Linked DNA regions of Homo sapiens: region 2 is linked to region 1. Evidence: fine-mapped expression QTL. A gene starts in region 1. The other region holds a variant in brackets. All regions are shown on one strand. Distances are between the middles of the regions.

Region 1 (11,548 bases):
AAAACAAAGAACCTCTTCATAGTTGCTGTGAGGTCTCAATACAGGGGCAGAGTGTAAGTGCTTGGCAAATCCTTTCCTACCACTAGGCATTTTAAATTAAGGTCACATACTACTTTAACTAAAAAAAATATTAAAAGGGAAAAAGACCAGTAAACACACAGGGTATGACTGAGGCATGGGGAAGACAGAATCTAGCTCTTGTAGTAAAAAAAAGTCTAATATTTTTTCTGGGTGAAGCAGCTGTTAAATCTTGACACACTGTGCCATATTTGAATATTCTATCAAAAAAAATCTGAAGTACCACACACAAAACATACCTTTTCAATTCTGAATACCTAATGTTACGGATTTTAAAAGGCAGTATTTTTCAAAATTGATTTTTTCAGAAAAAGTTAAATGCAAGAAAACTAACACTGTAGTTCCTAAAACAGTAAAAATCCTACACTAACTGTATATAGAGAATAGTTTAAAAACTGGATACATAAATTTGATAGAAATACAACAAAAATAAATGTTATAAATGTAAGAAATGTAAAATTATATCTATGTTATGAATGCCAATATATAATTACAAGTACATACAATGAAGAGATTATGGAAATAAGATTTTTTCATTTCTATTAATTTTTTTTTTTTTTTTTGAGACAGAGTCTTGCTCTATTGCCCAGGCTGGAGTAGTGGCACGATCTTGGCTCACTGCAACCTCTGCCTTCCAAATTTAAGTGATTCTCTTGCCTCAGCCAACTGAGTAGCTGGGATTACAAGTGTGCACCGCCATACCTGGCTAATTTTTTTATTTTTTATTTATTTATTTTTTTGAGACGGAGTCTCGCTCTGTCACCCTGGCTGGAGTGCAGTGGTACGATCTCTGCTCACTGCAAGCTCCGCCTCCCAGGTTCAGGCCATTCTCCTGCCTCAGCCTCCCGAATAGCTGGGACTACAGGTGCCTGCAACCACGCCTGGCTCATTTTTTGTATTTTTAGTAGAGATGGGGTTTCCATGTTAGCCAGGATGGTCTCGATCTCCTGACCTTGTGATCCACCCGCCTCAGCCTCCCAAAGTGCTGGGATTACAGGCGTGAGCCACCATGCCCGGCCTAATTTTTGTATTTTTAGTAAAGATGGGGTTTCACCATGTTGGCCAGGCTGGTCTCAAACTCCTGACCTCAAGTGATCCCACCCCCTGCCTCGGCCTCCCAAAGTGCTGGGATTACAGGTGTGAGCCACTGTGCCCACCCATCATTTCTATTAATTTTTCTACCTTTATTTGTAAAATAAAAATGACGAAATAAAACTAAAACCAAAACCAGCTAAACTCAAACGGAACAAAATAAGCACCTAGCACACTCAACAGGTCATCAGATGCCTTGACTCTTACTTGAAAAAGAAAAACCTGGTTCCATCTCTGAGTACTAAAATGGTATTTTTAACAGCTGGGAAAGGCAAGCTCTACTCACCTTGAACATATTCATTTTTAATTCTTCCTTCTGGGGAAGTGCAGAGTCCTAAGAAGCTGAACTAGGAAAGAAGAGAGAAATAAATCAAAACTGGGTAAGTATGTTGCTAATGCACGTGGCTGCTCTTTAGGAATTAGCAAAGGTGTGTGCTTCTTGGGGTGGCTGCAGCTTTATGTGGCTTTTAAGCAGATTATGACATGGATCCCAGATATCCAACTACCCCTTTCAGCAGTAGTTCAGAACCAGGCTAACCACACAGTGGCCTCACTGCCCATGTGCCTGTAATTGCACGCCAGTAATTCTTATTTTGAGTACAGCGTAAATTGAGACAATATAAGTACAGTAGGCCTGGAATTGATATGCATGGGTTAAAATCCTGACACTAAAAGCGTCACCTTGGGGAAACTATTAACATCTCTTTGCCTTACTTCTGTCATCTGCAAGTGGTAAAGAATAACAGTACCAACCTCATCGGATTGCTGGAAGGTAGAAAGCTCTTACAACACAGTCAGGTATCTTATTTATTTGCAACTGCAATAAGTAGAAGATGGTCTATGGTTTGAAATTATCCTTAAAAATATAATTTCCACCAACAGAATATTATAAGATAGTTGGAGTTCACAGGTTGTTGCTATGTCACGTGAAAGTGTCTTATAACTTCTGAAAAACATCTTGTCGTCTTTCCAATAATTTGCCAACACTGAACTAATAAAACCGAAGATACCGCAATTAAAAAACACCGTTTGACAATCCATACCTAACTTAAATTAAAAATGCAGGAACCTGGCCAGGCACAGTGGCTCATGCCTGTAATCCTACTAGCACTTTGGGAAACCAAGACAAGCAGATCACTTACAGTCAGGAGTTGAAGACAAGCCTGGCCAACAAGATGAAACCCTGTCTTTACTAAAAGACAAAAATTAGCTGGACATGGTGGCAGGCACCTGTAATCCCAGCTACTTGGGAAGCTGAGGCACAAGAATTGTTTGAACCCAGGAGGCGGAGGTTGCAGTCAGCTGAGATTGCCCCACTGCACTCCAGCCTCGGCGACTGAGTGAGACTCTGTCTCAAAAAAAAAAAAAAAAAAAAAAAAAAAAGGAAAAGGGAGGAACCTGAGTCTATATTGTTATAAACAAAAGAATGTGTAATAAATAAATGGGTGACAAAAGAAAGCTCCTATAGTAGAACACATAAACTAATAAAGGTAGAATGAAAGATAACTAGAACATCATCAATAGCTGCTAAAAACTGGTGAGTTTGGTGAGGAATAAGATGGCTACATAGTCTCAAAGTATTAAGTGCAAAAGGAAAAAGGTAACCTGGCAGACATTTTATCCAAAAAAACAAAGTTGAGACCACTAGTGGGACAAACCCACAAACCAACATTTGACTCCTATGATGCACTGAGAAGGATGCCTCCCTACTTTTATGGCATCTCTGCTGACAATGCATAGCTTGAATTTAATCATGAATAAATATTAAGGAAACAAAAAAATAAGAACATTTTACAAATAATTTCTCAATACTCTAGAAAGATATCGAGAGCAAAAAAGAAATAAAGTCTGAGGAATCATTCTAGACTAAAGGTGACTAATGAAACCAAAACTAAGTGCAATGCATACAATTAGACTGGAAACTCATCTGGGGGAAGAAATTACTTTCAAAGTCTTTAATGGGAAAATGGAGTAAGTTTAAATACAAACTGTGGGTTAGATAACAGTAAGTTATCAATGTAACTAATTTCATTTTCATCACTATCTCTAGCTTGCTCTCAAATACTTCAGCAAAAAGACAAAAACAAAATATAAGTATGACAAAGTTGTGAAAGCAAAAAGACAAAAAAAAAAACAAAACAAAAAACTACTTTGACAACAGCAGCAACAACCAGAACCTGGTGTTTCCAATTTATCAACAAGAATGAGACAGGTCTACTCAGTGATCATGGTGAAAAAGAAAAAAACAAAACAGCTTGTAACACAGAGAGAAATACATCCTACATTGATAAAAATAGCCAAATAATTGCCTCTTCCATCTAACATGACCACTTTGTTATCAGTGACAACTCCAGTCTTGTTATTTCCCCACCTCCAACATAAAAATTACAATAGTCTGATCAAATTACTACTGCTTCTTCACAGCATCCAATCCAGAACAAACCCATTGCCTAAAACTCTCCCCAACTCATCTAACATAAACCAAAACCCTATAACCAGGGTCCTCCTAATTGCCTCTTACCAAGACACCCCATGCATGTGTGGGCTCCTTGGATGCAGCAAGCTAAAACAAACAATTGTTGTTGGTTACAGGTATGTTCCTGGTGATGGCTGATGGTCATCAACAGAGCACACAGGGAAAACATAACATAACAAACAAACGTAACAACTGGTGAATCTGGGTGTAGAGTATATGAGATTTCCTTACGTTATCATTTTTGCAGCTTTTCTACAAGTTTGAAATTATATTTTTAAAAAAAGTTGGCTGGGCACGGTGGCTCATGCCCATAATCCCAACACTTTGGGAGGCCGAGGTGGGTGGATCACCTGAGGTCAGGAGTTCGAGACCAGCCTGGCAAACATGGTGGAACCCCATCGCTACTAAAAATACAAAAAAATTAGCCGGTGTGGTGGCGGGTGCCTGTAATCTCAGATGTTTGGGAGGTTGAGGCAGGAGAATCTTTTGAACCTGGGAGGCGGAGGTTGCAGTGAGCCGAGATCACGCCATTGCACTCCAGCCTGGGCAACAAAAGTGAAACTCTGCCTCAAAAAAAAAAAAAAAAAAAAAGTTAAAGAAATTAGGAAAGTCATTAATCAGAATAATAACGATGACGAGATGATGACAACTATGGCAATAATATCTAACGTTAATTAACAATAAATAGGTAGCTGATCTTCCCACTTCAGGCAGAAGGCCTCCAGTACAAAAGATGGGAAGGAATCTACTCCCCAAAGCCTGGGAGAAATAGATCTTCAGGACTCTGAGTTTCTCCATTTTGACTCTAGACTTGACAGCTGCCTTCTACTCATGTCATGGTTTTTGCAAAGAAACTTGACAGTTAATATTTAGTGGGAAAGAAAAATCACTGGACTGAGTAGGGTTCTAGTATGGCCAGCTCAGTTTTATCTGTGACATCTGGCAGGGTCAGTTTTCTAGTCCTGAGTTTCCAGATAAGACCTTTTCCTGAGCTTCTCAAACTTTAACATGCATCTCGCTCACCTTGGGATCTTGTTGAAATGCAGATTTCTGGGTCCTATCTGCAAAAATGCTAAATCAGAAGGCCTTCGGTAGGGCTCAAGAATGAGCCTTTCTACCTGGGTGATGCCAATGTTGCTGCTTTGTGAACCACAGTTTGAGTAGTGTTGCACTGTACTCAGTCCCTCTCCCAAAACAGCCCCTAATAAACAGAAATATATACAAGAAAAACTTGACAGAAAGGCACTAAACTATAGTTGTTATCTTTATACCCTAAGGTCATGGGGAATTTACATTTTTTAAATGTATTTCTGTGTTTTCCATGATTATGTGTTACCTCTATATTATTTGAAACAAATAAAACTAATAATTGAGAAAACTATTTTTAAAAACTCTTTTCTTTTTTTGAGACAGAGTCTTGCTCAGTTGCCGAGGCTGGAGTGCACCGGTGTGATCTCAGCTTACTGCAGCCTCGCCTCCTGGGTTCAAGCGATTCTCCTGCCCCAGCTTCCCAAACTCCTGGGATTACAGGTGTTGGCCACCACGCCTGGCTAATTTTTGTATTTTTAGTAGAGATGGGGTTTCGCCATGTTGGCCAGACTGGTCTCAAACTCCTGGCCTCAAGTGATCTGCCCGCCTCAGACTCCCAAAGTGCTGGGATTACAGGCGTCAGCCACTGTGCCCAGCCACTATTTTTTAAAAGTCATAGAATAGCCCAGACCTTGAGCAAAGTCCCCACAGTGAAGTCCCAACCTATTTTCACATGATACTAGCCAGCTGCCTATGGCTCATGCAGAACATACCAAAGAAGACTCAGGTCTAGACTCAGACTGCCTCGGTTTCAATGCTAGCTCTGCCTCCTACTAGCTAGGTGGCTATGAGCAAACAAGTTATGTTCTTATGTCTCAGTCTCCTCGGAAAAAGAGTATCACTTCACAGAGCCACTGTATAGTGGAAAGGTGTTCATTTGTATAAACCCCTTAGAATGGAACTTAGCAACTAACGCTAAATTATAATCACTTCTCATGCCCAAATACATGACCCCACACATTCTCTGATTTATGTGAATAAAACAAGAATAACAACAAGTCTTACTCACATGGGGTTCTGCTGCCTCCTCCTCTGTGCAGTGCTTTTTGAGAAGTCAGGGCTGGGGAAGAAAAACAGGCTATGAAGTAACCAGGATTGTGTCTTCATCCCGGATACATCACAGTGGCATCTCCCAGGACCAGTTAGAAGCAACCCTCTCCTTCCTCAAAAGAGGTCAGGGACAATCCAGCTTCATGGACTCACAGAATTTCGCCACAGAACGGGAGTTTCTAGGAAAATTACAGTAGTATTGGTAATTCACGTGCCAGGCAGTTTTACACTTTTTGTATTACCTCGTTTTCTCTCAAAACATTCTATTAGGAAGTTTTTGCTTTTATTTTCCTTCAGAACAGCAAACGAAGGCACGGGGATTAACTAACTCGCTCAATGTGATACTGTATGAAGTGGTAGGGCTGGCTCATTAGGTGGGGGAGTCACAATGAGGGAGCGAACAGCCCGAGAGACCTTCAAACCCGACGAAGCATCACCCCAGCCGCCCGAAGCCAGTACGCCCCCAATTCTAACAAGCTCCGCCCAGGGAAACGCAAAACAGCATCCTGGCCCCTCAAACCTCCGCTCTTAGCCGCTACTCCTTTTTTTCCCCAAACAAAAGACCGCTAGCTGCTGACCACAAGTGCATTTCGGGGAAGTTTGAAAGGTTCCTGAGAAGCTGACCTGAATCACCAAAGCCAGGGAAAAGATGGCTGCTACGTCGTCTTCCTGGGCGGAAGTGCCTGCGAGTATCAGGAGGACCTGGACTACGCTTCCCAGAATTCCACAGCACTGCCTTCCTCGAGCCGGAAGTGCCTACAACTACCTAGAACGATTGGACCTACAGTTCCCAGGATTCCGCAGGGGAAACATTTACAGCCTTACTGCAGCTGAGCTATGCGCGACTACACGGAACTCCGGACTACATATCACAGAATGCTGGAGTTGGGGGAAAAACAGAACAGTACCGCCCTCCTGGACTACACTTCCGGAATGTCCAAGCCTTCTGATGTGGAAGTGTCCAACTACCTTGAGCTCCTGGTTTTCATTTCCCAGAATCCCTCACTTCTCTTTAGGTATTATTATGGTCTGAGTGTTTATGGCCCCCACCAAATTCGTATGTTTAAATCCTAACTCCCAAGAAGATATTAGGAGGTGGAACCTATGGGACGTGATCAGATCAAGAGGGCAATGCCCTCATGAATAGGATTAATGCTCTCTTATAAGTGGCCTGAGGGAGCTCCTTTGCCTCTTTAGTTATGTGAGGACACAGCCAGAAGGACCATGTATGACTTAGAAAGCGGGACCTCACCAGACACTGAATCTGCTGGCACCCGATCTGGGGCTTATGTGCCAGCAATTTCACTCCTAAGTAAATACCCAGGAGAACTGAAAGATATCCACACAAAAACTTGTTCTAAAAAAGTTCATAGCAGCATTAGTCATAATAGTCAAAAAGTGGAGAAGACCCAATGTCCATCAGCTGATGAGTGGATAAACAAAATGTGGTCTAGCCATATAATGCAATATTATTTAGTAATGTGAATGAACAAAATATTGATTCATGTTATAACATAGATGAACTCTGAAGACATTATGTCCAATGAAAGAAGCCAGACACAAGATACCATATATGGTATGATTCCATTTATATCAAATGTGCAGAATAGGCAAGTCCATAGAGACAGAAAGTAAATTAGTTGTCTCCAAGGCTGGGGAGATGTAGTTGGGAATGGGGAGTGACTGTCAATATGTAGGGTTTTTTTTTTCTTACTTTTTTAGAGACAGCGTCTTGTTATGTTTCCCAGAATGGAGTACAGTGGCTATTCACAGGCATGATCATAGCACACTGCAGCCTTAAATTCTTGGGCTCAAGTGATCCTCCCGCCTCAGCCCCCTGGGTAGTTGAGACTACAGGCATGCACCACCACACCCAGCTCATGTAGGGGATTTCTTTTGGGAGCAGATGAAAGAGTTCTAGGATTAGATAGTGGTAATCATTACATAATATTGTGGATCTTTTCAAAGATAGAAAAATGTTATGTGACAATATCCCCTAAAGCGTTAAAATGTAGCTAAACTCAAAGCTAAGACAGGGAAATCCCAACGGCCAAAGATGAACAGGCAAGTTAGGCCCACAGATGAAAAAACTGAATGATCCCACAAGGGCTGGGCATACTAGGTAAGAGCTAAGGAATTAATCTTGTGTGTGAATGGGAGTTAGAGTAGCCATGCATTTTGGGAGACATGAACTATACAATATTACAAATGAAACAGTTCTCTCCTCTTGACTGTGAACAAACAACAACCAACCAAAAACAAAGCCAGATAGCTCCCAGCTTCTACAGCTGTCTTGTGACTAACCTGAAAACTCTGGTCATGAGGAGGGTAGATGTAGACTGTACCTACAGTCTTATCAGTTATGGGGCAGAGGGGCAAGAAATTATTTGGTTTAGTCTACTGGTTTTGGTTACAAATTACCTTGAAGGAAGATGACCTAATGTGGTATCTGGTGATACAAAGAAAGAAAAAGAAAGAAAAGAATATAGGTACTGGATTTCTGAAGCCCTTTGTTCAGAAAAGAGTTAACATAGGCCTGAGACTGTTGTACTTAAAAGGCCTGCTTGCAACATGCTATAGTTTGATGGTGTTCCCTTGTTAAAACTTAATCCCTTCTTGCTTTTTCATCACTTCCACCATATGAGGACATAGCATCTGTCTCCTCCAGAGGATGCAGCAACTGGATGCCATATTGGAAGCAGACAGCAGCAGCCCTCACCAGATGTTAAACCTGCCAGCATCTTGACCTTGGACTTCCCAGCCTCAAGCACTATGACAGATAAATTTATATTGTTTATAAATTACCTAATCTGTGGTATTCTGTTATAGCAGCGCAAGATATAAGGTTAGCCCTTGACTGGTATCTGGGAACTTGAATTTCAGGAGGATTTCCACAATTCTCTGATGAGAGTGGCTCACCATGCCCCGGCTATTTGTATAATGTGATTTATGCTGAATTCCTTCTGGGAATCTAGAATTTTGGCCCAAGCTGGCCTATGTGACCAGTTCCAAAACAAAACACAACGTAGTGCCTAGGGCACTAAGTCTCCATTGAGCTTACTGGGTAGACATTTCACATGTTTCAATGCTGAAAAAACAGTACATCATGAATGATTCTACAGGGAGTGGATTATTGGAAGCCTGTACCTGATTTCTTCTGGACTTCATCCCATGCACATTTTCCCTTTGCTCAACTGACTTGGTATCTTTTACTACAATAAATCATAGTGACTATGATAACATAGGGTGTCTTGAGTCCTCCTAGTGAATTACAAGAATGTGAAGGTGGTATTATCAATCCCCAGCATACCATGCACATTGAGGTAGCATGGACCTTAATGAGTAGCAAGCATCCAGTGAAGGTATACTGAAGAAAATCAATAGTGGAAAAAAGTCTCCCCAGTTAGATATAATTTATTGAGTAAAGCCCTTTAATCCAGCAGTTCACAACCTTTTTGGCACAGGGGACCAGCTTTGCAGAAGACAATATTTTTCCACAAGGTGAGGTGGGGGGATGGGGATGGTTTGGGGATGATTCAAGCACATTACATTTATCATTTTATTTTCACAAGGAGCGAGCAACTTAGATCCTTTCTTTAAAAAAAAAAAAAGAGTTTCGCTCTTGTTGCCCAGGCTGGAGTGCAATGGCGCAACCTCGGCTCACTGCAACTTCTATCTCCTGCGTTCAAGTGATTCTCCTGCCTCAGTCTCCCAAGTAGCTGGGATTACAGGCACCTGCCACCATGCCTGGCTAATTTTTGTATTTTTAGTACAGATGGGGTTTCACTATATTGGCCAGGCTGGTTTCCAACTCGTGACCTCAGGTGATCCGCCCACCTCAGCCTCCCAAAGTGCTGAGATTAAAGGCATGAGCCACTGCGCCTGGCTGCAACCTAGATCCTTCACATGCGTAGTTCACAATAGGGTTCATGCCACTGATCTGACAGAAGGCAGAACTCAGCTTTGCTCACTTGCCCACTGCTCACCTCTTGCTGTCTGGCCCTGTTCCTAACAGGGTCTGTGGCCTAGGGGTTAGGGACCCATGCTTTAATCAACTACACTGAAAATATCACCATCATGTCCAAGGAATATGGAATGTCATTCAAACCCACTCTTTGTCCTTACTGGTTCCACATCCAGTAAGTGGATTGCACTATATTCTGCTCTTATGCACACTTTTTCCTCAGTGAACCTTTTTAAACATACCTCCCTAACATATGTATACCACTTTGTTTTCATTTCCAGGATTCTCTCTGTGTTACAGATTAATGCTTTAAAAAATGTAGCAAGCAAGGCCGGGCACAGTGGATCATGCCTGTAATCCCAGCACTTTGAGAGGCCGAGGCGGGCAGATCACTTGAGGTCAGGAGCTCGAGACCAGCCTGGCCAACATGGTGAAACCTCGTCTGTACTAAAAATACAAAATTTAGGCCAGGCACGGTGGTTCACACCTGTAATCCCAGCACTTTGGGAGGCCGAGGGCGGATCACAAGGTCAAGAGATCGAGACCATCCTGGCCAACATGGTGAAACCCCGTCTCTACTGAAAATACAAAAATTAGCTGGGCGTGGTGGTGCACACCTGTAGTCCCAGCTACTCAGCAGGCTGAGGCAGGAGAATTGCTTGAACTTGGGAGGCAGAGGTTGCAGTGAGCTGAGATTGCGCCACTGCACTCCAGCCTGGCAACAGAGTGAGATTCCGTCTCGGGGAAAAAAAAAAAAAAAAAACTGAGTTGGACATAGTGGCACGCCCCTGTAATCCCAGCTACTCAGGAGGCTGAGGCAGGATAATCATTTGAATTCGCGAGGCGGAGGTTGCAGTGATTCAAGATTGCACCACTGCACTCCAGCCTGGGCAACAGAGAAAGACTCCATCTCAAAAAAAAAAAAGAAGTGTAGCAGACATTAATTGCAAAGATACAATTGTTCACACTCATCCATTTATCCACATATTCAGAGAATTTTTTTGTTTTTAAAATTGGCTTCCAGAATCTATTAATTATGATCTTATGTGCCATATAACAATATAGAACAATCATATTTTGAAGGGATTATCATATAGCACTTTTTAAAATTCTAATGTACATAATTTACTGCTTTGGTAATACTGATGTTCAATAAGAAATTAAAATGTAATTTATGGAATTATAAAATGGAAAAATACCACAAAATGCTCATTGCAAGAGAAAATTGCTAAAAAAAAAAAAGTATCCTTTACATATTATCTTATGCATGTACATACACACTCACTCATAAAAATGTATAGATTTCATTATGCTACAAAGGCAATAGTCTATGATCTTCCAAAGCCCATATTTTTTCTTTATCCTGTCATTACAGATACCTGCCGCCATTTTAATAGCTTCAGGTCAATACAGGAATGAAAATATCAAAAGTCAAATTATTATAGAGGAACACACACTTCCATTTAAAACAATTCATTGACATCACTGATATGTTACTTAGTCTTTTTGGTATTTTAATCTCATAATCATAAATTCCAATTATATAACTTCCAAATCAGAGATATACAGTGTAAATTCTGAAAAACACTCTTCCTTAAACCCATGTTTTACTGCCAGCAATAGGGAAAAGCATGGTAAATGCCAATCCTGCCCAAATAATAAATTTGATAAAATTATCAAATTTCCACAAGTTGTTTTTGGTATTCGCTTAATGGGTGTGGGGCAAAAATATGGTACAGCCCCTACCTCAGAAGTTTTTTTTTTTTTTTTTGAGACGGAGTCTTGCTCTGTCACCCAAG
Region 2 (11,548 bases), 92 kb after region 1:
TCTCCATGTTGGTCAGGCTGGTCTCAAACTCCCGACCTCAGGTGATCTGCCCACCTCAGCCCCGCAAAGTGCTGGGAATATGGGCGTGAGCCACCGCACCTGGCTGGTAATGTCCTTTATTCGTATTTCTTTGGATTTTTTATTATAACTTTCATTATAGTTATCTATTTCATTTCATGTCTGCATACTATTACAGGGAACTGATGATCTATCTTTATTCTAAATAATGAATATTTAATTTTATGTAGTTTTCATTAATACCAATCCTGCAAAGAAAATCATGTATGTGGACCTTACTCTCCCGTCTGATCATTGAAAATAATTTTGGCCAGGTATGGTGGCTCATGCCTGTAATCCCAGCACTTTTGGAGGCCGAGACAAGCAAATCATTTGACCTCTGGAGTTCGAGACCAGCCTTGGCAACATAGCAAAACTCCGTCTCTACAAAATATACAAAAATTAGCCGAGCATGGTGGCACGTGACTATAATCCCAGACACTTGGGAGGCTGATACAGAAGAATCGTTTGAACCCAGGAGGCGGAGGTTGTAGTGAGCCAAGATTGCGCCACTGCACTCCAGCCTGGGCAACACAGCAAGACTCTATTTCAAAAAAGAAATAAAATAAAATAATAATTTAGTTTAATTTAATAATTTCAAACCAGGTGCAGTGATTCACACCTGTAATCCCAGTGCTTTAAGAGGCTAAGGTGGGGGGATTGCTTGAATTCAAGAGTTCAAGACCAGACCAGGCAACACAGCAAGACACCAACTTTATAAATTTTTAAAACTAGCCAGGCATCGTGGTGCGTGCCCGTAGTCCTAGCTACTTGGGAGGCTGGGGCAGGAAGATCTGGACCCCAGGGGTTCAAGGCTGCAGTGGGCTACACTTACATCACTGTACTCTATCCGAGGCAACAGAGCAAAACTCTGTCTCTAAAGAATAAGAATAAACTATAATACAATAATTTCAAATGAAAATTAAAGTGTCAAAAAATAAGAATGTTTAAAATTGTGATCATATATGTCAGATCTCAATTTTTTCTCAAACTCCAAAATCTTTCAAGGGGATATATTACCCTGGTTTTTCTTAAAATAGCCAAAAGCAGATTATCAAATTTCCTGTGATTTTGATAATCTCATTAGAGAGAATTCACCTTATTAATCCCATGTATTTGAATATAAATAATACTATCACCTTTTCAAATATGTATTGGCCACTTCTATTTCTTCTCTAAAATTTACCAATTAATGTATTAATGTCCTTTATTCATATTCCTTTGAATTTTTTTCTCCATTCTGTACATAAGATTCTTATTTTGGATTATGTCTTTTTTAGATATCAAAGTGGTAAATATTTTCACCTTAGGCTGTTATATTCCCTGGTAACACTCTATAAGCCATCTTTGCCATTAGGAATTTAAAGATTTTCTATAGTGAGTGTAGCAATCACTGTCCTTTGGTGCCTGGAGTACTAGGTGCACCTGAGGAGGTGGCACAACAGGAAGAGAAGAGGACCCCCGAGGAGGGGTCAGGGAGGAGCTATGTCACCAGTGGTTGTCATCACTCAAGAGGGCACTCCAGACACCCATACCAGAAGGCATAGGTCCTTCAATGGAGAATCCTCTTTCTTCTTCTCTCTCTCTTTCAATTTAGCAAAATAGCTAACATGCCGACCCTAGGTTTCCTCTCTGAACCTCAGCAGGTTTCTCATATTTCACATATTTAAGAGGAAGATGAGGCTGAGAACTGCATCATTCAGCTGTTCTGAGGAACAAACAAAGGAATAGAACACAGTGACTAGAGAATCTTCTGATATCATGGACATTTGAAACTAAAGCTACCAAAACTAAAAAACTAAAAAAAAAAAAAAAAAAAAAAAAGACAGAAAAATGATTACATCCAGGGTTCAAGTACGAGAACCCTGGGCATTATCAAACAAAGTTGAGACTGAATTGCTAAATGTTGCTGGAGCAACTGGCAAGATTCACCGAAACCGATATATGTGCAGCCCAGGATGCTGCATTTTGGTCAAACTCCTTAATACATAAAGGAATAAGAAAAGACCAGTAAATAACATACACACAATGCATGACTTAAGCATGGGGAAAACAAAAGCTAGCTCTTCCTATGTGAAAATCTCCAGAAATCCTTGTGTGAAGCCACAGTTACAGCCTGCTGTGCCATGCCACATATGGATATTTTATCTACAAAACAACCAACGTGGCACATGTCAAAAGTACTCTTTCAAAACTGAGCTCCTAGTGCCTGTGAGTATAAAGTAGTTAAAAAGAAACATCGGCAGGTGCAGTGGTGCACACCTGTAATCCCAGCACTTTGGGAGGCTGAGGCAGGCAGACCACTTGAGGCCGGGAGTTCAAGACCAGCCTGGCCAACATGGTGAAACCCCGTCTCTACTAAAAATACATATATTAGCCAAGTGTGGTGGTGAGCGCCTGTAATCCCAGCTACTTGAGAGGCTGGGGCAGGAGAATCGCTTGAACCCGGGAGGCGGAGGTTGCAGTGAGCCGAGATTGCGCCACCACACTCCAGTCTGGGCAACAGAGCAAGGCTCTGTCTCGAGGAAAAAAAAAAAAAAAGGAGCATCAATTCAATGGGAACATGATGCAACCATAAATAATGAATATTACATAATATTAAACACAAAGAACACAATTTAAATTAGATAAGTATCAATACAAATACAGTTATGAATATACATGAGGAATAGCATGAGAAAATAAAAATGCCTAATTAGTGAGAAAAGATGTAGTGAAATGGGAGAATTGTTCCTTCCCACTAAATTTCTACTCATAACATAAATAATGGTAAAAGTAAACAAAATCAAATCCAAACGCAAATTCAACACAAAAGAAACAAGGAAGCATCTGGCACACAACAGGTGCACAAATAACTGTTGTTCTCCTTGAGTCTTCCCAAGACCGAGAAAAACATGTGACAATCTTAAGTAGCAAAACAGAATCTGAACAGCAAAAGAGACCAGACTTACTCACCTTGAACATGGTCATTTTTCCTCCTTCTTTGGGGAATTTGCAGAGTTCTCAGTTATGCAGTTCAAGAGAAGACAGAATTGTGCCTGAAACATGCCATGGAAGGCAAAAAAAAAAAAAGAGACATGAAGGGGTGGTCAGTGATGCCACCCAACAGTATGAACATGTGTTGTGAATTAGCACTTGAATGTTCACAGGGGCATTATTCATAATAACCCAAAATTGCACACAACCAAAATGCCTTCCTATGGGTAAATGGACAAATTGTCGCCTATCCATACAATGAAATCTTACTTGGAAATTTAAAGAAATGAAATATTGACTCATGCTACAACATGCATGAACCCTGGAAACATTATGTTAAATGAAAGAAGGCAGTCACAAAAACCCATGGACTGTGTGATCGCATTTATATGAAATGTTCAGAATAGGCAAATGTATCATAGAGAAAGTAGATTAGTGGTTGCTTCACATTTGAGATGAGAATGAGGTTTAACTATAAATGGGCACAAGGAGTCCAACTGGGAGATAAAAATGATCTAAACTGAATCATGATCATGGTTATTCCACTTCACAAAATTCCTAAAAATCACGGAGTTCCATGCCTGAAATGGGTGAAAGCTATATGTGAAATACATCTTGATAGAATTGGAAAAAATAATTGTTAATCTACATGTCATTGAAATCAGTAAGACTGAATTCTGAGTCCATATCAATAGAATATTTATAGTTGAATGAAGGAATGAATAAATGGGGGAGAAATGGAAACTCTTCTTTACAGTAGAATGTCCACTAATCATGTATCTCCCCATAAGGAACTTTATTATTTTCAAAATTTAAAAAAAGTAACTTCACAGTGGACAAATCTGAAAGACTTCATCTTGGCCAAGTGAACAAAGTTGAGATCACCAGTGAAGGGACAAACCAACATCATTTGGACACTGTTAGGTTGCAATGAAAAGGACATCTCACCACTACTATGGTATCCCTGCCAATCATGCATACTCTAAACGTAAACATGAAATTTACCAGACAAACCCCAAATGAATGTCTTTCTGCAAAACAACTTGCCTATACTCTTCAAAAAACCATGCATATAAAAGACAAAGGCTGTGGAATCCTTCTAGATTAAACAAAAGTATAGAAATGTGACAATAAAGACAATGCATAAAATTGGACTTTGAATGGGGTTACAGGTAAAAAGTGGGGCAAGGGATAGTTATAAGGACCAAAAGAAGAAACTGAATAAATTTAAATATGGAAGCTGCAGATTAGATAACAACGTTATGTAATATGGTATCCAACACTATCTAATAAATGACACTACAACTACTATTATTAGCTTTTTAACAGATGTGATATGTAATAGATAACAATATTATTTAATATAATATTTAATTATTTTTTTGAGACAGAGTCTCACTCTGTCATCCAGATCAGAGTGCAGGGGCGCCATCTCAGCTCACTGCAGCCTCTGCCTCCCAGGTTCAAATGATTCTTATGCGTCAGCCTCCCTAATAGCTGGGATTACAGGCGCACGCCCCCTCAAATTTTAAAAAAGTAACTTCACAGTGGACAAATCAGCTAATTTTTGTATTTTTAGTAGAGATGGGGTTTCTCCATGTTGGCCAGGCTGGTCTTGAACTCCTGGCCTCAAGTGATCCACCTGCCTCGGCCTCCCAAAGTGCTACAATTACAGACATAAGCCACCATGCCTAGCCAGTATAATATCTAATAGTATCTAGCATGTTATGTGAAACCCTATAACCAGCCCTTTCTAAACACCTCTTACCAAGACACCCCACAATTATCTTGAAATGTGGGCTTCTTTGCTGCAGAAAGCTACAAGCAACTGTCTCTGGCTACAGGTATGTTCCTGGTGGTATCTGGGTGATCAGCAAGAACAAAGCAAACAGGAAAAATGTAAACATTTGGCAAATTTGGGTAAAGAGTATATGAGAATTTCTAACACTATTTTTGCAATTTTTCTATAGGTTTCAAATGATATGAAAATAAAACGTTAAATATTTTTTTTTTTTGAGACCGGGAGGCAGAGGATGCAGTTTCGCTCTTGTTGCCCAGGCTGGAGTATAATGGTGCAATCTTGGCTCACTGCAACCTCCGCCTCCCGGGTTCAAGCGATTCTCCTGCCTCAGCCTCCCGAGTAGCTGGGATTACAGGCATGCGTCACCATGTCTGGCTAATTTTGTATTTTTAGTAGAGATGGAGTTTCTCCATGATGGTCAGGCTGGTCTCAAACTCCCGACCTCAGGTGATCCGCCCACCTCGGCCTCCCAAAGTGCTGGGATTACAGGCGTGAGCCACCATGCCCGGCCAATATCAGGAAACATTTACCAAAAAAAAAATGAGATAACGATGAGATAAATTAGGATGAGCATGATATAACATGTAAGTTCACTAGCTATTTCCCTCTTGGCAGTGTTTCCAAATTTCCATAGTTAAACACATAAGGGAAAACACATTTTTTTAATCATAAAATTTTGTTTAAATGTTTATAAATAAATATGCAAATATGCCAAAGAAAGACCAAAAAGAAATGCACCGGGTGCGGTGGCTCACGCCTGTAATCCCAGCACTTTGGGAGGCCGAGGCTGGTGGATCATGAGGTCAGGAGATCAAGACCATCCTGGCTAACACGGTGAAACCTCATCTCTACTAAAACTACAAAAAAATTAGCCGGGCGTGGTGGCGGGCGCCTGTGGTCCCAGCTACTCACACAGGAGGCTGAGGCAGGAGAATGGCGTGAACCTGGGAGGCGGAGTTAGCAGTGAGCCGAGATCGTGCCACTGCACTCCAGCCTGGGCAACACAGTGAGACTCTGTCTCAAAAAAAAAAAAAAAA[T/AT]GCACTCGAAGTTTAACAGTTACTATCTTTACATGCTGGATTCATGGGTAATTATAAACTTGTACTACTCGTATTTCTCCAATTTCTGAACGCTCCACAATCATACCGCTGCATAACAAGTGAAATATTTGTAATAAATGAAATAGTTCTAATGAATGAAATAGTTGATAAACTCCCAGAACAGTCCAAGCCCATAAGCCTTGCTCTCAAGGCTCCCTTCAATCAAGTCCTAGCTTGCTTTCCCCACTAGATTCCAGCTAGTTCCTCTGCCTCAATGAGAATGTATCCAAAAGATTATCAACTAAGGCTCTGACCTGTAACGCCCAGGTTTCAACCGCAGCTCCACCTCTTACTGCTTAGGTGACTATTCTCAGATAACTCCTGCTCCTTTGTATCTCACTCATCTTTAAAACTGAAAAAAGTAGTACCTCTCCACAGAGCCACGGTGTGGCGAAAATGTGACTACTTGTATAAAGCTCTTGGGATAAAGTTACCAATTGAGGCTTAATTATTATCAACACCCATGCCTGAGGACACATCCTACACTCTTGGTCGGGGTGAGCATCTCTGTAAAAGAAAAAAAGCCAAGGACCACTCTCGTGGAACTTTGCCCTCAGTAGCCAAGAAGTCCCTCCCTGCAGCTCTTTTTGAGAATCAGGCTGGGGAAGGAGAAAGCTGTGAAACACCCTGACCGCATTGCCGTCCGGCATAAAAGTTAAATGTTCCTCTCCCTTCGTGGAAATGGAAACAACCCTCGCCTTCCTAAAAAGAGGTCAGAAGCGTCCGGGATCACCCAGCGTCCTGCAGGAATCAGAGACAAGGGCGGGGATCCCTGCAGATGGAGCTCTGACCCCACCCGGGGACCTGACAGGCTTCGTGGGAAATAAACACTAAGAAGAGACCACCAGTCACTAAGGGAGGGGCTGCTTTAAGGCTTTCATTTGTGTTACCTCTTCCAGTTCCCAAAACGATTTCATTAGGATGGTCCTAAAGTCCCCATTTTAAAGAACAGCAGTGGGAGGTACAGGGAGATTAATAACATCCCAACCCTAAATTGTGAGAAAGTAGCCTCACAGGTGGGATGGAGGGAGGCGGACTGAGCGAGCTGAGAGCCCCAAAAACCCTCAAACCAGGCGAGACGCGTCCCGACCAAGTCCCAACCCCCAGCCTCATGCCCGGGGACGCGAGGACAGCCCCAAGACCAAGAAGGCTCCGCTGACAAGAACGAAAAGAGAGGCCGTTGTCCCTCCAAACCTCCGTTTTCCAACGAGACTCCTTCTCCCCTTAGTCAACTTCCAGGTGGTTGCGAGCCAGCATCGTAAGGGGACACGTTTAGAAGGACCGACAAGACACAGGACTGACACCAAACTACCACCGAATGCACTGCAGCAACCTCGCCCCCCGGGAGCGGAAGTGCCCCTACCCCGCGCAGCGTGTGAACTACATTTCCCAGAATTCCCCGGATACGCCGTCCTGAGCCTACTTGCTCGTCATTCAACAGATCTCCTGCGCTACACTTCCTTGAATCTCAAAGGAGACGTTCTATAGTATCACCTTCCGGCGGGAAGCGTGGGACTCCGCGGTGCTCTTTGACTACACTTCCTGCAATGCCCACGAGGAATGAATCCCATAGACCCAAGCGCCTGGTTTGGAATATGGACTGTGGCCCTGAGAGTGGTCCTTCCCTCTCCCTGCGTCCTCGAGAGAAAATATTGAATAGACAGGAATTCCTGAAGTCTACACGCCTCCCATGATGACAGGAGTGTTACTGAAAGAGAACAAAGCAAGGAGATACAATCTTCAAGGAGTTAGCGGGGAGTGACTGTGGAGCGGTCAGGAGATGGCTGAAAGGCTAATATACTAGACGCTAATAGTATGAGGCTAAATCTAAGAGCTTAAATAATGGGCCAGGAAAAATGGTTTGGGAGAGGCATTGAGTGGGGCACCAGCCCCTGGTACAACCAGACACTGTTGTACCACTGGTTTGGCAAGAAAAACAACCACAGTTTAAGTGTTTAAGAGGGCTGTAAGAGTTAAAGAGAAAAAAAAAAAAAACACGAAAAGCGGCTCAACAGTCAAAGACAGGTTCGTTTTGGAGAATAAACCGAGAGGGCCTTCTGGCCGATTGCAGTCAGGAGCGCTCTCTCTTACGGACTAAGAGTATGTATTGGCTTTAGGGAGAGAGAGCTTACCACAGGCTTAGAATGTTTCTGTATTGGGGAGAAGTCTGTTGTGGGGTTGGAATATCTCTGGTTGGAGGGGAAGTTATCTTGGGACTGACATCTCTCCAATGGAAGGGAGGTTATCTCGGTGCTGGCATGTCTCTGGTCAGGGAGGGGTTTATCTTATGGTTGGAATGTTTCTGATTGGAGATGTCATTTGTGGTTTATGGTCATGCTGACCTTAGCCATTAGGCTGATGCCCTTTGGATTTAGGCAGTTTTTGATCAACGCGAACTTTAAAATGGCAGTGTTTGTCCAAGATGGCGATGCTCCTGCCCTGTCAAGGGCCAATATGGAGGGCCAATTGCCCTCCTGGAAAAGCTATCTTCCCACTTTTAAAGTTTTCATATTAATATTCTTTAGACGTGGAAATGCCACATTTAAGAGAAATTAAACTGCTTAGTATTGTGAAAGGAAAATATCTTGGGCCCCCAAAATCACTAAGGAAATCTCAAGCTGGAAATCGCTTAGGGCAAACCTGCCTCCCATTCTATTCAAAGTCACTCCTCTATCTGTCCTTGCTATCACGAGAACAGCATGGGAAAGACCCACTCCCATGATTCAATTACCTCCTACTAGGTCCCTTTCATGATATGTGGGAATTATGGGAGCTATAATTCAAGATGAGATTTGGGTGGAGACACAGCCAAACCGTATCAGTATGTGTAGATTTCTTATTTTCCATTATTACTTAAAAGAAAGCACGTTTCTAACTCTTCTATGGTCATGTAACAACATATCCTAGAAATCACTTCATGTACAGTACATTCTTTTTAGTGCTGCGTAAACTAGAAAATCCAGAAATAAATTTCTACACCTACAGTGAGCTCATTTTCAACAAAGGTGCTAAGTATATATATTGGGAAAAGGACAGTCTCTTCAATAAATGGTGCTAGAAAAACATGATATCCACATATAGAAGAATGAAACTTCAACCCTGTTGTTCACCATATACAAAAATAAAATCGAAATGGATTAAAGACTTAAATCTAAAACCTCGAACTATGAAACTACTACAAGAAAACATTGGGGAAATGTTCCAGGACATTGGTCTGGGCAAAGATTTCTTGAGTAATACCCCAAAAGCATAGACAACCAAAGCAAAAATGGACAAATGGGATCACGTCAAGTTAAGAAGCTTCTGCACAGCAAAGGAAGCAATCAACAAAGTGAAGAGACAACCCACACAATAGGAGAAAATATTTGCAAACTATCCATCTGACAAGGGATTAATAACCAGAATATAAGAAGCTCAAACCAAATAGGAAAAAATTTAATAAATCAATTTTAAAATGAGCAAAATATCTGAATAGACATTTCTCAAAAGAGGGCATACAAATGGCAAACAGGTATATGAAAAGGTGCTCTACATCATAGATCATCAGATAAATACAAATCAAAACTACCATGAGATATCCCACTCCAGTTAAAATAGCTTTTATTCAAAAGACAGGCAATATCAAATGTTGGTGAGGATGTGGAAGGAGTGAAGGAGGGAATCCTCGCACATTGTTGGTGGGAATGTAAATTAGTAGAACCACTGCGGAGAACAGTATGGAGGTTCCTCAAAAAATTAAAACTATATCAAAGTGATATCTGCACCCTCCCCTGCAATGTTTATTGCAGCACTATTCACAATAACCAAAATTTGGAAGCAACCTAAGTATGCATCAACAGGTGAATGGATACAGGAAATGGACATATACACAATGGAGTACTATTCAGCCACAAAAAGAATGAGATTTTGTTATTTGCAACAATATGGATGGAATTGGAAGGACATTACATTCAGTGAAATAAGTCAGGCACAGAAAGACAAACTTCACATCTTCTCACTTATTTGTAGGAGCTAAAAATTAAAACAATTGAATGCATGGAGACAGAGAGCAGAATGTTGGTTACCAGAGGGAGGGAAAGTTAAGGTTGGTGGTGAGGGAAGTGGGGATGGTTAGTGGGTACAAAACTATGCTTAGATAGAATGAATAAGATCTGGTATTTGATAGCACAACAGAGTTACAGTCAATAATAATTTATTGTACATTTGAAATAACTAAACGAGTACGGATTGTTTCTAACACACACAAAAATCTGATAAATGCTTGTGGTAACAGATACCCCATTTACCCTGATATGATTATTATGCATTGTATGCCTGTATCAACATATATACTCCATATGTGTACCCATAAAAATTAGGATTTTTTTTTTTTAGGCTGAGTGCAGTGGCTCATGCCTGTAATCCCAGCACTTTGGGAGGCTGAGGTGGGCAGATTACTTGAGTGCAGTAGTTCGAGACCAGCCTGGGCAACATGGAGGAACCTCATCTCTATAAAAAAATACAAAACTTAACCAGAGGCTGTGGTGCACGCCTGTAGTCTCAGCTGCTCAAGAGGCTGAGGTGGAAGGATGGTTTGAGCCCAGGAGGCCACCACATCCAGCTAGTTGTATTTTTAGTAAAGACAGACTTTCACCATGTTGGCCAGGCTGGTCTTGAACTCCTGGCCTCAAGTAAACTGCCCACCTCAGCCTCCCAAAGTGCTGGAATTACAGGCATGACACTGCACCCAGCCCTTTGCCCATTTTTTTAATTGAGTGGTTTCTGTTATTGAGTTGTAAGAATTCTTTATATAATCTGGATAGTAGAACTCATGCTGTATGGTCTTTTCATGTTCATGACAATGTCCATGTATGCACAGCATTTTTTAAAACCTAGGTCCCATTTAGGTATTTATATTTGCTTTTGCTTATGTTGTTTCATTGAAGAATCCATTCCAAATAAAGTCAGGAAGATTTACTTCTATGTTTTCTTCTAATACTTTTATAGTTTAGCTGTTACATTAGGTCACTGATGAATTTTGAGTTAACTTTTAAGTGTAGGGTGAGGTACAATCTAACTTCATTATGTTGTGTGTCTGTGTATAGGTGTCCCAGCAGTATTGGTCGAAGAGACTATTCTGTCTCCATAAAGTAATCTTGGATCCTTCTTGAAAATCAAGTGGCCTTAGATGTATGGGTTTCTTTATGGACTCTCACTTCTATTCCATTTGTATATATATCTGCCTCCTGGGTTGAAGCGATCCTCCCACTTCAGCCTCTCCAGTAGTCTCCAGCTGGGACTACAGACATACACCAACACAACTGGCTAATTATTGTATTTCTTGTAGAGATGGGGTTTCTGATGTTCACTGAGAAATCTAAAAATAATGCATACAATTATAAAATAGAAAAATACCAGCAAATATTCACTGCTGAAGAAAATAAGAATATAATTGTAACACACTATGTATGTACACTCAAAAAAAAAATTCCAGAAACACAGAGAGATGCTTGTCTAGAAACAAAGAAAGGTATTTATTTAATTTTTTTTTTTGGAGACAGGGTCTCACTCTGTTGCCCTGGCTGGAGTGCAGTAGCACTACCATAGGTCAGTGCAGCCTCAATCTTCCAGACTCAAG

What was found.
Region 2: its variant is fine-mapped to the expression of ZNF226 in whole blood (INTERVAL, PIP above 0.99).

The regions. Positions count from the first base shown.
Region 1 is chr19:44,160,004-44,171,551 of GRCh38, reverse strand. ZNF226 (zinc finger protein 226) reads right to left here and starts at 6,452. Exons shown (of 6, transcript NM_001032373.2): 1 at 6,410-6,452; 2 at 5,745-5,795; 3 at 1,457-1,517. The coding sequence starts at 1,471. ZNF234 (zinc finger protein 234) reads right to left here. Exons shown (of 6, transcript NM_006630.3): 6 at 11,239-11,548. RefSeq lists enhancers at 6,431-6,550, 6,611-6,760.
Region 2 is chr19:44,067,869-44,079,416 of GRCh38, reverse strand. ZNF284 (zinc finger protein 284) reads right to left here and starts at 7,258. Exons shown (of 5, transcript NM_001037813.4): 1 at 7,126-7,258; 2 at 3,013-3,095. The coding sequence starts at 3,027. It overlaps ZNF223 (zinc finger protein 223), which reads right to left. Exons shown (of 5, transcript NM_013361.6): 5 at 11,418-11,548. The variant T/AT (reference allele first, on the strand shown) is at 5,872.